Linked DNA regions of Homo sapiens. The protein of the gene in region 3 purifies or fractionates together with the protein of the main gene of each other region. This does not show direct contact. Each region holds a gene or a part of one and is shown on either strand. Other genes may lie near its edges.

Region 1 (3,657 bases), on a different chromosome or scaffold from region 3:
CTCACTGCAGGTGCTTACTGCAGGGTGTTCAAGTGGAGTGCTCACTGCAGGTGCTTATTGCAGGGTGTTATTGCAGGGTGTTCACTGTGGGGTGCTCACCACAGGGGCTTATTGCAAGATGTTCACTGTGGGGTGCTCACTGCAGGTGCTTATTGCAGGGTGTTCACTGTGAGGTACTCACTGCAGGTGCTTACTGCAGGGTGTTCAAGTGGAGTGCTCACTGCAGGCGCTTATTGCAGGGTGTTATTGCAGGGTGGTCACTGTGGGGTGCTCACCGCAGGGGCTTACTGCAGGGAGTTCACTGTGGGGTGTTCACTGCAGATGCTTATTGCAAGGTGTTCACTGTGGGGTCCTCACTGAAGGTGCTCACTACAGGTGCTTATTGCAGGGTGTTCACTGTGGGGTGCTCACTACAGGTGCTTATTGCAGGGTGCTCACTACAGGTGCTTTTGTGGGTCATTAACTGTAGGGTGCTCATTGCAAGTACCACTGCAGGTGTTCACTATAGGTGCTCACTGTAGGTGCTTACTGCAGGGTGTTCACTGTGGGGTGCTCACTGCAGGTGCTTACTGTAGGGTGCTCACCATGGGTGATCACTCCAGGTGCTATTGTAGGTGCTGACCATGGGTGCTCACTGCAAATGCTTATTGCAGGGTGTTCACTGTGGGATGCTCACTGCAGGGTGCTTACTGCCAAAATGGCACGGAAAAAGGCAGGTTAAAGAACTGATGTAGGGTATAATTCCATCATACGTGTGGGTGTGCATGTCCATGAACAAAAAGATGTCTGAAAAGTGAACCACTAAAATGTTCATAACAATTACATCTGAAAAGACTCAGGTGATTTTTATTTTCTCCTTTGTACCTTTGTGTTGTTTGTGTTTATGAAAATACATCACTTTAATAAAAACATTCCAGCTATTAAAAAATGATAACTATTAAGTCTATAGACTATCAGTTTTAAACAGTGAGTCTTCTACTCTAGTTTTCCAAAATTTGAATGACTTAAGGGTATTCTCACTTACAGGGCTGAAATTCCTGAGACCAAGGCAGAATAACACTTACACATCCAAGTAATGACAAGGCCACCTACTTTTCCACAGCAGCACTGTGATAACACCTATTAGCCTCTGAAGTACCGCAAAGGTAAACGGGGACCCCAATAAAATGGTGAGGGGCGAGGCCCATGCAGTACCAAGCAGGGGCCACAGCCACTACCCAGCTGCAAAATGGGGACTGTAGGTGACCATCAGGCACCGTGAGGCCCAAGGACCACCCGGCAAATGAAGAGCTCGTAGTGACGTCATGTTCCATCTACTAGATGGTCAGAGGTTCTTTTTCTCCCACAGGCATTCTAGGGAAAAGCAGTTCCACACAACGATCCAACATCTTTCTGAAAGACTGGAAGAGACACATCGAGGGATTATCACCAACTTACTGCAAGGGCCCGAACCAAACCGGGCAATGGTCTCTATTTCACCATTTTCAAGTTTTACGACCCGGCCATCTGCTGTCCCAGTAAACATCACATCTGTTTAAAAACACAAAAAGGAGGAAGAGCAATGTTAGCCTAAGAAATGTGACTAAGCCGCCTTCTCCTACAAGAGGGCTTGTTTACATGTTCCCCCTGCCCTATAGAGGAAATGCCAATTCTCAAGATGGAAGAGAAGCAATTTCTGGGAATATGAAAAATCCTTAAAACTTACAGTGATAAAACTGCGGGGGCCTAGGGAAGCAGCCTGTGGGCATGAACCTGACTCAAAAGCAAGGGTGCAGCAGATACCAGTCAGTGATGAGAACTGTGAGGATTTTCTCCAGTCCTGAAGCACTCAAGCTGACACTCAGCACTTAGGGGCATGAGTTCATATTCACCTCACATCAGTGTCTGCTGCTGATATTGATTATATCCAACTAAAGGAGAAGAACTGCCAGAAATCCTTTAGAAGAAAATTACAGCACATTAAGTGCTTACTTCAGCAGCACATATACTAAAATTAGAATGATACAGAGAAGACTACTAGCATGCCCCTTGAGCAATGATGATACACAAATTCATAAAACATTCCATAGTTTTCAAATGTATATTGCAAACTCAAGGGTAACCACTACAAAAAGTAAAAAAAAGAAGTATAACTGATATGCTAAGAAAGGAGAGAAAATGGAATCATATAAAATACTCAGTTTAAAACTACAAAAGACAAAAAGAGAGTAGAATGCAAAAATAGAAACAAAGAATAAGGGCAAAGAATAGAAAACAGTAACAAATACGGTAGATATTAATCCAATATATCAATAATCACTTTAAACATAAATGGTCTAAATATACCAACTGAAAGAGAGACATTGCCAGAATTATTCAAAAAACAAGACCCAACTCTATGTTGTGTACAAGAAACCCACTTTAAATATAAAGACATATATAGATTAAAAGTGAAGGGATGAAGAAAGTACATCATGTTAACACTAACCAAAAGCAACCCAGAATAGCTGTATTAAATTCAGACAGAGAACACTTCAGACCAAGGAAAGTTATCAGGGATAAAGAGGAGCATCACACAATGACAAAGGGGTCAATGCCTCAAAAAAACATAAGAACCTTTAATGTGTATATGCTTCACAATAGAGCACCAATATGTGAGGCAAAAACTGATGAAACTGCAAGGAGAAACAGAATCCACTATCACAGTTAGAGACTTCAACAATCTAAACAAGAATAATCACATGATCATATCAACAGATACAGAAAAAAACATCTAGTAACATCCAACACCCATTCATGATTAAAAACTCTCAGCAAGCTGGGAGTAGAGGGGAAACTTTCTTAACTTGATCAAGAATATCTATAAAAAAATCTACATATAACATCATACTTATGGATGACAAACTAGAAGCTTTCCTGCTAAGATCAAGAACAAGGCAAAGATGCCCCTATCACCACTCCTTTTCAGTATCATACTTGAAGACCTAGCTAATGCAGTAAGACATGAAAAGGAAACAAAAGGTATACAGATTGAGAAGAAAGAAATAAAACTTTCTTTGTTTGCAAGTGACATAATTGTCTAGATAGAAAATCTGAAAGAATCAACAACAACAAAAAACCCTCCTGGAACCAAGCAATTATAGCATGGTTGCAGGATATTGCAAGATATTGACTCACCTTCCTTTATACTAACAATGAACAAATGGAATTTGGAATTGAAAACACAATACTATGTACATTAGCATCCAAAAGATTGGCATACTTAGGTATAAATATAATATAATATACACGAGGTCTATATGAGGAAAACTAGAATATTCTGATGAAAGAAATCAAAGAACTAAATAAATGGAGAGATATTCCATGTTCATGGACAGGAATACTCAATATTGTCAAGATGTCAGTTTTTCCCAACCTTAATCTATAGATTCAATGCAATCCCAATCAAAATCCCAGCAAGTTATTTTGTAGATACAGACAAATGAATCCTAAAGTTCATATGGAGAGGGCGAAGACTCAAAATATCCAATACAATATTGAAGGAAAAGAATAAAGTCAGAGGACTGAAACTACTCAACTTCAAGATTCTCTATAAAGCTACAGTAATCAAGACAATGTGGTATTAGCAAAAGAATAGAAAAATAAATCAATAGAACAGATAAAATTTTTAGCCCAGAG
Region 2 (3,657 bases), on a different chromosome or scaffold from region 3:
AACATTTTTGAGTGCCAATTATATACCAGGCATGGTACTAGTTGTTAAGGAAATACTCCTTGTCCTTAATCTCATGGATCTTGTAAAAACCACACAGCAATCAAACCTCGATAAATATATAAATAAAAATTGTGCTACTGCTTTCATAGTGAAAACCATAGGGGGCAAGAAAATGGAGGAATTTGGTCATAAAAGCCTTACTTGAAGAAATGACTATTAGCAGTAGCAAATCCACACAGGTCTGAAGCAACTCGATTCTTACCTCCTGTGGGAAAGAATTTATTGGAGGGGCATAAGGCAGAGTGAGAGACCGAGGCAAATTTTTGAGCAGGAGTGAGAGTATTAAAAAGCTTTAGAGCAGGAACGGAAGGAAGTACACTTTGAAGAAGGCCATGTGGGCTACTTGAGAAATCCAAGTACCTCGTCTGACCCTGGACTTGGGGTTTTATACATTGGCATGATTCCAGGGTTTGCGTTTCTTCTCCCGTGATTCTTCCCTTGGGGTGGGCTGTCTGCATGCGCAGTGGCCTGCCAGCAGCGGGGAGGGGCTGCCTGCAGTGTGTTTACTGAAGTTTTACTCATGCTCACTTGAGGCATTTTTCCCTTACAATTTGAGCCTTCCTAGAGGAAGGGCATATACTAGTTAAAAGCTGCCATTTTGCCTATTAGTGCACATGCTGGAGCCCACTTGCCCAACTCCTGAGATCTTAGTGGGAACCTGCTGATAACCAGCTTTAGGTGTTTTCTATCTAATGGGAGACTGCCTTTCCATGGTGTTGGCGCGACCAATTATTATTTCAGAGAGACAGTTTAACAACGGCCTGACCATCACCTGATGGCCGCCTGACATTCCTGGTGGTGGGGGGCCTTTCCTGCCCTGCTCATGTCTGCCTAGCTGCCTACTCTGACTTTTGAGGCGAAATCTGAACATTTCAAGAAAAGTAGTTAATCTGGAAGTGGGTGGCAGCATTCTTGAGAAGGAGCATTTGGGCAAAGGTCCTGAGGCAGGAGGTAGCATGAGTGAAATAGTGAGAAACTAGGAGATAAATATTGTTGGAACGTGGAGAATGACAAGTAGAATGATGCCACACAGGAAAGCATGGGTCTCGTAGTCCATGCTAAGGAGGAGATCTTAAGTGCGGTGAGAAGCCGTTGAAAGATTTTAAGTAGGGAAGAGTGGATTTGTGTTTTGAAAAGATCACTCTGGCTGCCTACAGAAAGTATGTATTTGTCTATAGAACAGGTAGCAGGAGTCCTGGTGGGGGTCATCATTATTCAGGTGGGACATAATCCTTGCTTAGATTGGCAGGGCGGTGGTAGAGATAGAAAAAAATAAATTGATTCAAGAGCTCCTAAAGATGCAAAGGCATCAGGATTTGGCTATTGGATATGGTAGTGAAGGTGTCAGGAGGCCTAGGATGATAGATTATTTGTTTCATTATGGAAAGTTCTCAAAGCAAAATGTATACCTTCTTGTATTGTATTTTATGATTATGGGAAGCTTTTTTTTTTTTAGTCTTTGCCCTCTGGATATTTTAAGGTCAGCATTTATTAAGATTATCTGCTTGGACTTGCAAAGCACAGAAAGTTCCTTTAATTAAATAAATTATGTCCCAGACTAACACCATTTATCCCAGGTTTTAGCCCTGAGTGACTGTCTACAGTTGACCCATAAGCCTCTGAAAATAAAGGTTTTTAAAGGAAATGTTGACAGATCCATTAAAACAGCAGTCCCCCACCTTTTTAGCACCAGGGACTGGTTTTGTCAAAGACAATTATTCCACAGACTGGGGGAGTTGGGTTGGGTGGGGGATGGTTTGGGGATGAAACTGTTCCGCCTCAGATCATTAGGTATTAGATTCTCATAAGGAGTGTGCAACCCGGATCCCTTGCATGCAGTTCACAATAGGGTTTATGCTCCATGACCCAGGGTTGGGGACCCCTGCATTAAAACATTCAGTACTGGTGAGAAGCTGTGTGTAAACTAATGACTCTCTGGATATGCAAATGCAACTTTAGTCAAGTCATTAATGCCACTTAGGTTCAGGGTGTATATAATAGGACTAATTCAGGAACTAGTAGGCCAAGAGGTTTTATGTGATAGGCAAGCTAACAGGTTTGAAAGGAATATAGCTTAAATGAGGATTAGTGGCTGAACTGATTACCCTGGCAGTCAAGTTCCACCTTACCAAAGCCATTTTATCTCAGTGATGATCAGTTGTAACCTGAAAAATTCTGCCCTTGAACATGAGATTGTACTTCAAATGGAAGCTCTGTTTATACTATTAGGGATGGAGCTATCACTTAGTGAAAGTGTAGTGTCTTAAGTGGTCACTGTTCTCTCAGTTTCCCAGGCTATACACCTTAGGATTGGTTTTTGTTTCCTTTGCTGTTTTCAGTGTCCCATCCCCCTTCTCCCCCCACACATAATAATGATTAAAAATATCACATCACCAAGTCTGAGAAGTCTGGGGTTTATAGACTTCCTGAAATTAATGCAGAACTTTTGCATACATCTACATTTTTTTCTAGGTTGATAATCAGAAGCTTTCATGTTTCCTAAAGTGTCCTCTAAACCAAACAAGGCTTCCAGCCACTGACCATGTGCCCTTTGAAGGCAGGGTTCATGTTTCCTGTTTGTTGAGTATTTCCTCCATCTTTCCTGGTGCTAATTTTATGGAAGGCACATATTAAATATTTTTCAAAGAAACTAAGGTACATCCATTTATGTCTCCCACATAGGTCTGAACATTTCGGAAATGTTTGGCGAATTCCTAAGAATTGTTGTATTTATCACTTCTGTGGAAAAGTTTTCCATCCAGTGGTCTATGTGAGGTCAGGCATCAGCCCTGTTACCACCTGCTTGCCCCTCCCCCATCCCCATCCTCCCCTCCCTAAGACCTCATGAAGAATACTGATAACACCTGAAGTGGGAGTTCCTGCTCTCACAATCTAGTTGGGGGTGGGGAGAGCTATTGCTTAATCCAGTAGCAATGTAAAGAAATAATACAAGAACTGTCACAAGGATATGTTTCATCAGTAGTCAAACCAGTAGGTGGAGAAGGCTTAAAATGGCCTTTGGGGAATGCACAGTTACTAGTAAAGAGAGAATGAAAACTTTTGAACAGCAGTCTATTTTGTGACTTAGGCTGGTTGCATGGGATGGGAGATAACGTGTGAGATACGATTTGGGTTCCTGTATAAACTGTTAGACAATAGTAAATTGGAGAAAGAGGAAGAGAGAAAATAATTCACGAATGAAAAGCAAAATTCTGAGCTTGAGCCATCTGTAAACAGAATATGTGGAAATTCTAACTTGAGTTATTAAAAAAGTTGGTCAGCAAGATTTGAGTAGCTATTGAATGAAGGAAAATGACTGTGATTATTCAGCTCCTAACTAGATAATTGTCTTTGTTCATATTTTGAATTTCGATTCTCATTCCTGAAGAATGAATGTACAATCTGAAAAGTAACTAAATTAAAGATTTCAGTAATAACAGCAACAATAATAGTTTACATATATTGAATCCTTACTTTGGGCCTAATACATATTCTACATGTATTTGGTTGTTTATTTGTAACAACCACCCTCTATTGCAAGTCCGATGGAATCCCAACTTTATAGATGAGACTGTTGTGGTATAGAGAGGTGAACTC
Region 3 (3,214 bases):
CCACAGTTCCACTCCTCAACCTGACCTGCAGTTGGTCTTGGCTAAGCACAAGACTGAACAGAGAGCCTAAGTAGGGGTCTGGGGGCATGTGAAAACTCAGAGGGGGTCTCTGTGAAAATAGACTTCCCGAGAGGGCAACACCATTATTTTTTAGCCTGCCTCTGGCTTGATGACCCATTTCCCAGACTACAAGGAAGCAGCTGGGGGGAAAAAAACCTACAATTGTGTGATTCTCAAACCACAGTGTGCATAAAAATTGCCTGGAATGATTCTGAAAATGCATATTTCCAGGCCTCAATCCCAGAGACTCTAGATCTGGGTCACTTTAACACAAATGTCCTGGACCAATGCTTCTAACACTTTAATGTGTGAAACAATATCCTTGATGATTTTGTTAAAATGCAGATTCTAATTCCATAGGTCTGGGGTAGGGCCTGAGATGTTACTTTTCTCACATTCTCCCCAGTCACACTGGTGATGCTGATCCTGGGAACACAACTTTCATTAAGTCTAACCAATAGACCAGCCCCAGAGTCCACCAGAGACTGAACTGGAAATAATTGCTTCATCTACTTTTGAGAAATCCATTTGTACCCCCACATTATTTTAGAAATGTTCAGAGTTACTCTGAGCTCCAGCCAAGAAGAATAGCAAATGTAAGAAAGCCGGGGAGAAGTTCCTAGCAGATACTGAGCCCCCATCAAGTTTCAAGCACATACATAAACATCACAGCCACCCTGTTATGTAGATGTCCTATGTGCAGGGTGATATCCAAGATATTTAACAACTAGAATGGAATGAACACTGACCCCCTTGGGGGTGAGTTCTCACTGTTAATTCCCTTGAGAGCTGGTTGTAAAACAGCCTGGCACCTTCCCCACCTCCAACCTTGATTCCTCTCCCACCATGGGATCTCTGCACACCCAGCTTCCCTTCACATTCCACTGTGAGTGGAAGCAGCCTGAAACCCTCACCAGATGCAGATGCCCAGCTGAACTTTCCAGCTGCCAGAATAATGAGCCAAATAAGCCTATACTGACATTAACCTTTTCATTTCTGATATTGATAATTTGAAAAGCAGTCTTAATAAGCATTTATCTACTTTATTGATTTTTTTGAAAGAGAGCGCTTTGGGGGGTTTTCTTACTGTATGTCTCTATTGCATGTTCTGTATTTTACATTTTTCTATTATTTCTTCTCTGAGGTATAGTATTGAATGTAGAAAAATCCTCAAATGTTCGGTATTAAGCAATACACTTCTAATTCATGGTTCAGAGAAGAAAATATCTCGAATAAAAATAAAATAAAAATATGACTTATCAAAATTTGTAGGATCTAAAGCAGTATTCCAGGAATGCAAGGTTGGTTTAACATTCAATAATTGGTCAGTGTAATTAATCACATTAATAGAATAAAAAGAGAAAAAATATAATCATTTCAGTGGATGTAATTGTTCAGAGCTTCTTAAAAGAAGCAACTCACTATTTTACTAGATGATTTGTTTCTTCTGAATTCCTCTTTAAGGCTACAGGTGGTGCTTCTTACTTTGAACTGATCACTTTCTAGGTCCCCACCCTTACTTCTTGTTTTTCATACCCTTGTAGAGTTTTCTCCATATAGGAAACCCATGCTTGACATTTGCTCACCAGAGTTACAGAGCTCTCAGGGAGGAGACTCAGAGTTCTAACCCTCTTGCCCTCCTTTTTTCCCAGGACGACAACATCATGAGGTCTCTCCAGCTGTTTCAAAATGTCATGTAACTGGTGACACTCAGCCATTCAGCTCTCAGAGACATTGTACTAAACAACCACCTTAACACCCTGATCTGCCCTTGTTCTGATTTTACACACCAACTCTTGGGACAGAAACACCTTTTACACTTTGGAAGAATTCTCTGCTGAAGACTTTCTATGGAACCCAGCATCATGTGGCTCAGTCTCTGATTGCCAACTCTTCCTCTTTCTTCTTCTTGAGAGAGACAAGATGAAATTTGAGTTTGTTTTGGAAGCATGCTCATCTCCTCACACTGCTGCCCTATGGAAGGTCCCTCTGCTTAAGCTTAAACAGTAGTGCACAAAATATGCTGCTTACGTGCCCCCAGCCCACTGCCTCCAAGTCAGGCAGACCTTGGTGAATCTGGAAGCAAGAGGACCTGAGCCAGATGCACACCATCTCTGATGGCCTCCCAAACCAATGTGCCTGTTTCTCTTCCTTTGGTGGGAAGAATGAGAGTTATCCAGAACAATTAGGATCTGTCATGACCAGATTGGGAGAGCCAGCACCTAACATATGTGGGATAGGACTGAATTATTAAGCATGATATTGTCTGATGACCCAAACTGCCCATGTCATTTGTTTCCAGAAACGAGGACCAATAATTCTCTCACACTGGCATTTGTGCTGGTAGTACAAGTCCTTTAATATGTCCAGGAAGGGAGCCATTGCCCAGTGGTCCATATCTCCACCACATCCCCTGCTTGAGCCCAGCGCTGCATGTCCCTCCCAAGAAGTCCAGAATGCCTGCAAATTGCTGTAATTTTATACCATGTTCTAACCAATAAACAGAACTATTTCTTACACTCTCAATCACTTCTTCATGACTCCGTTAGGTAAGAGAGGTAAGCTGTGAAAAGGGAAGGCTAGTCCATTCATTTGACACCCAATTATTAGTGCAGTTGTCCCTCCATATGTGTGAAGGATCAGTCCCAGGACTCTCCATACCAAAATCTGCAGATACTCAAGTCCCACAGCTAGCCCTGAGGGACTCGTGTTTTCAGAAAATTTGGCCTCCATATATGCAGGTTTCACATCCTATAAATACTGCATTTTCTATCACTTTTGGTTGAAAACAATCTGCATGTAAGTGGACCCAATAAGTTTAAACTCATGTTGTTGGAGGGTCAACTGTACTTACGTTGTGCCAGGCCTGTGCCAGGCAATGACTTCATCCTCCCCAGCCCCCAAGCCTTCCCCAGCAAACATCCAATCCAAATGCAAATACTGTGACCAAATGCAAATGCAACTTCGAGACAAGACCCTTCACAACACTTTGCTTCCAACAAGATTGCCACTTCTAAGACCCTCTGATATGGAAAGCCTGGAGCCCCTGTGGTGTGAGTGGGAGTGCAGAGATAAAGAGGATGACGGGGCCTCCTGCTGAGAGATTTTAGGCTCTAGAGGACCATCAAGCGGCTTCAGCCTATAACCAGCAAAT

Evidence for each region.
Region 1: the proteins of KCNIP1 (region 3) and APMAP purify together in Homo sapiens (affinity purification with mass spectrometry; one large-scale study listed by BioGRID and IntAct). This does not show direct contact.
Region 2: the proteins of KCNIP1 (region 3) and GALNT7 purify together in Homo sapiens (affinity purification with mass spectrometry; one large-scale study listed by BioGRID and IntAct). This does not show direct contact.

The regions. Positions count from the first base shown.
Region 1 is NC_000020.11:24,972,208-24,975,864, forward strand, and holds part of APMAP (adipocyte plasma membrane-associated protein), read right to left. Parts: intron 1,531-3,657; coding exon 1,438-1,530; intron 1-1,437. UniProt on the Homo sapiens protein: Exhibits strong arylesterase activity with beta-naphthyl acetate and phenyl acetate. May play a role in adipocyte differentiation.
Region 2 is NC_000004.12:173,171,742-173,175,398, forward strand, and holds part of GALNT7 (N-acetylgalactosaminyltransferase 7), read left to right. Parts: intron 1-3,657. UniProt on the Homo sapiens protein: Glycopeptide transferase involved in O-linked oligosaccharide biosynthesis, which catalyzes the transfer of an N-acetyl-D-galactosamine residue to an already glycosylated peptide.
Region 3 is NC_000005.10:170,734,047-170,737,260, forward strand, and holds the end of KCNIP1 (A-type potassium channel modulatory protein KCNIP1), read left to right. Parts: intron 1-1,712; coding exon 1,713-1,760; 3' UTR 1,761-2,586; downstream 2,587-3,214. UniProt on the Homo sapiens protein: Regulatory subunit of Kv4/D (Shal)-type voltage-gated rapidly inactivating A-type potassium channels. Regulates channel density, inactivation kinetics and rate of recovery from inactivation in a calcium-dependent and isoform-specific manner.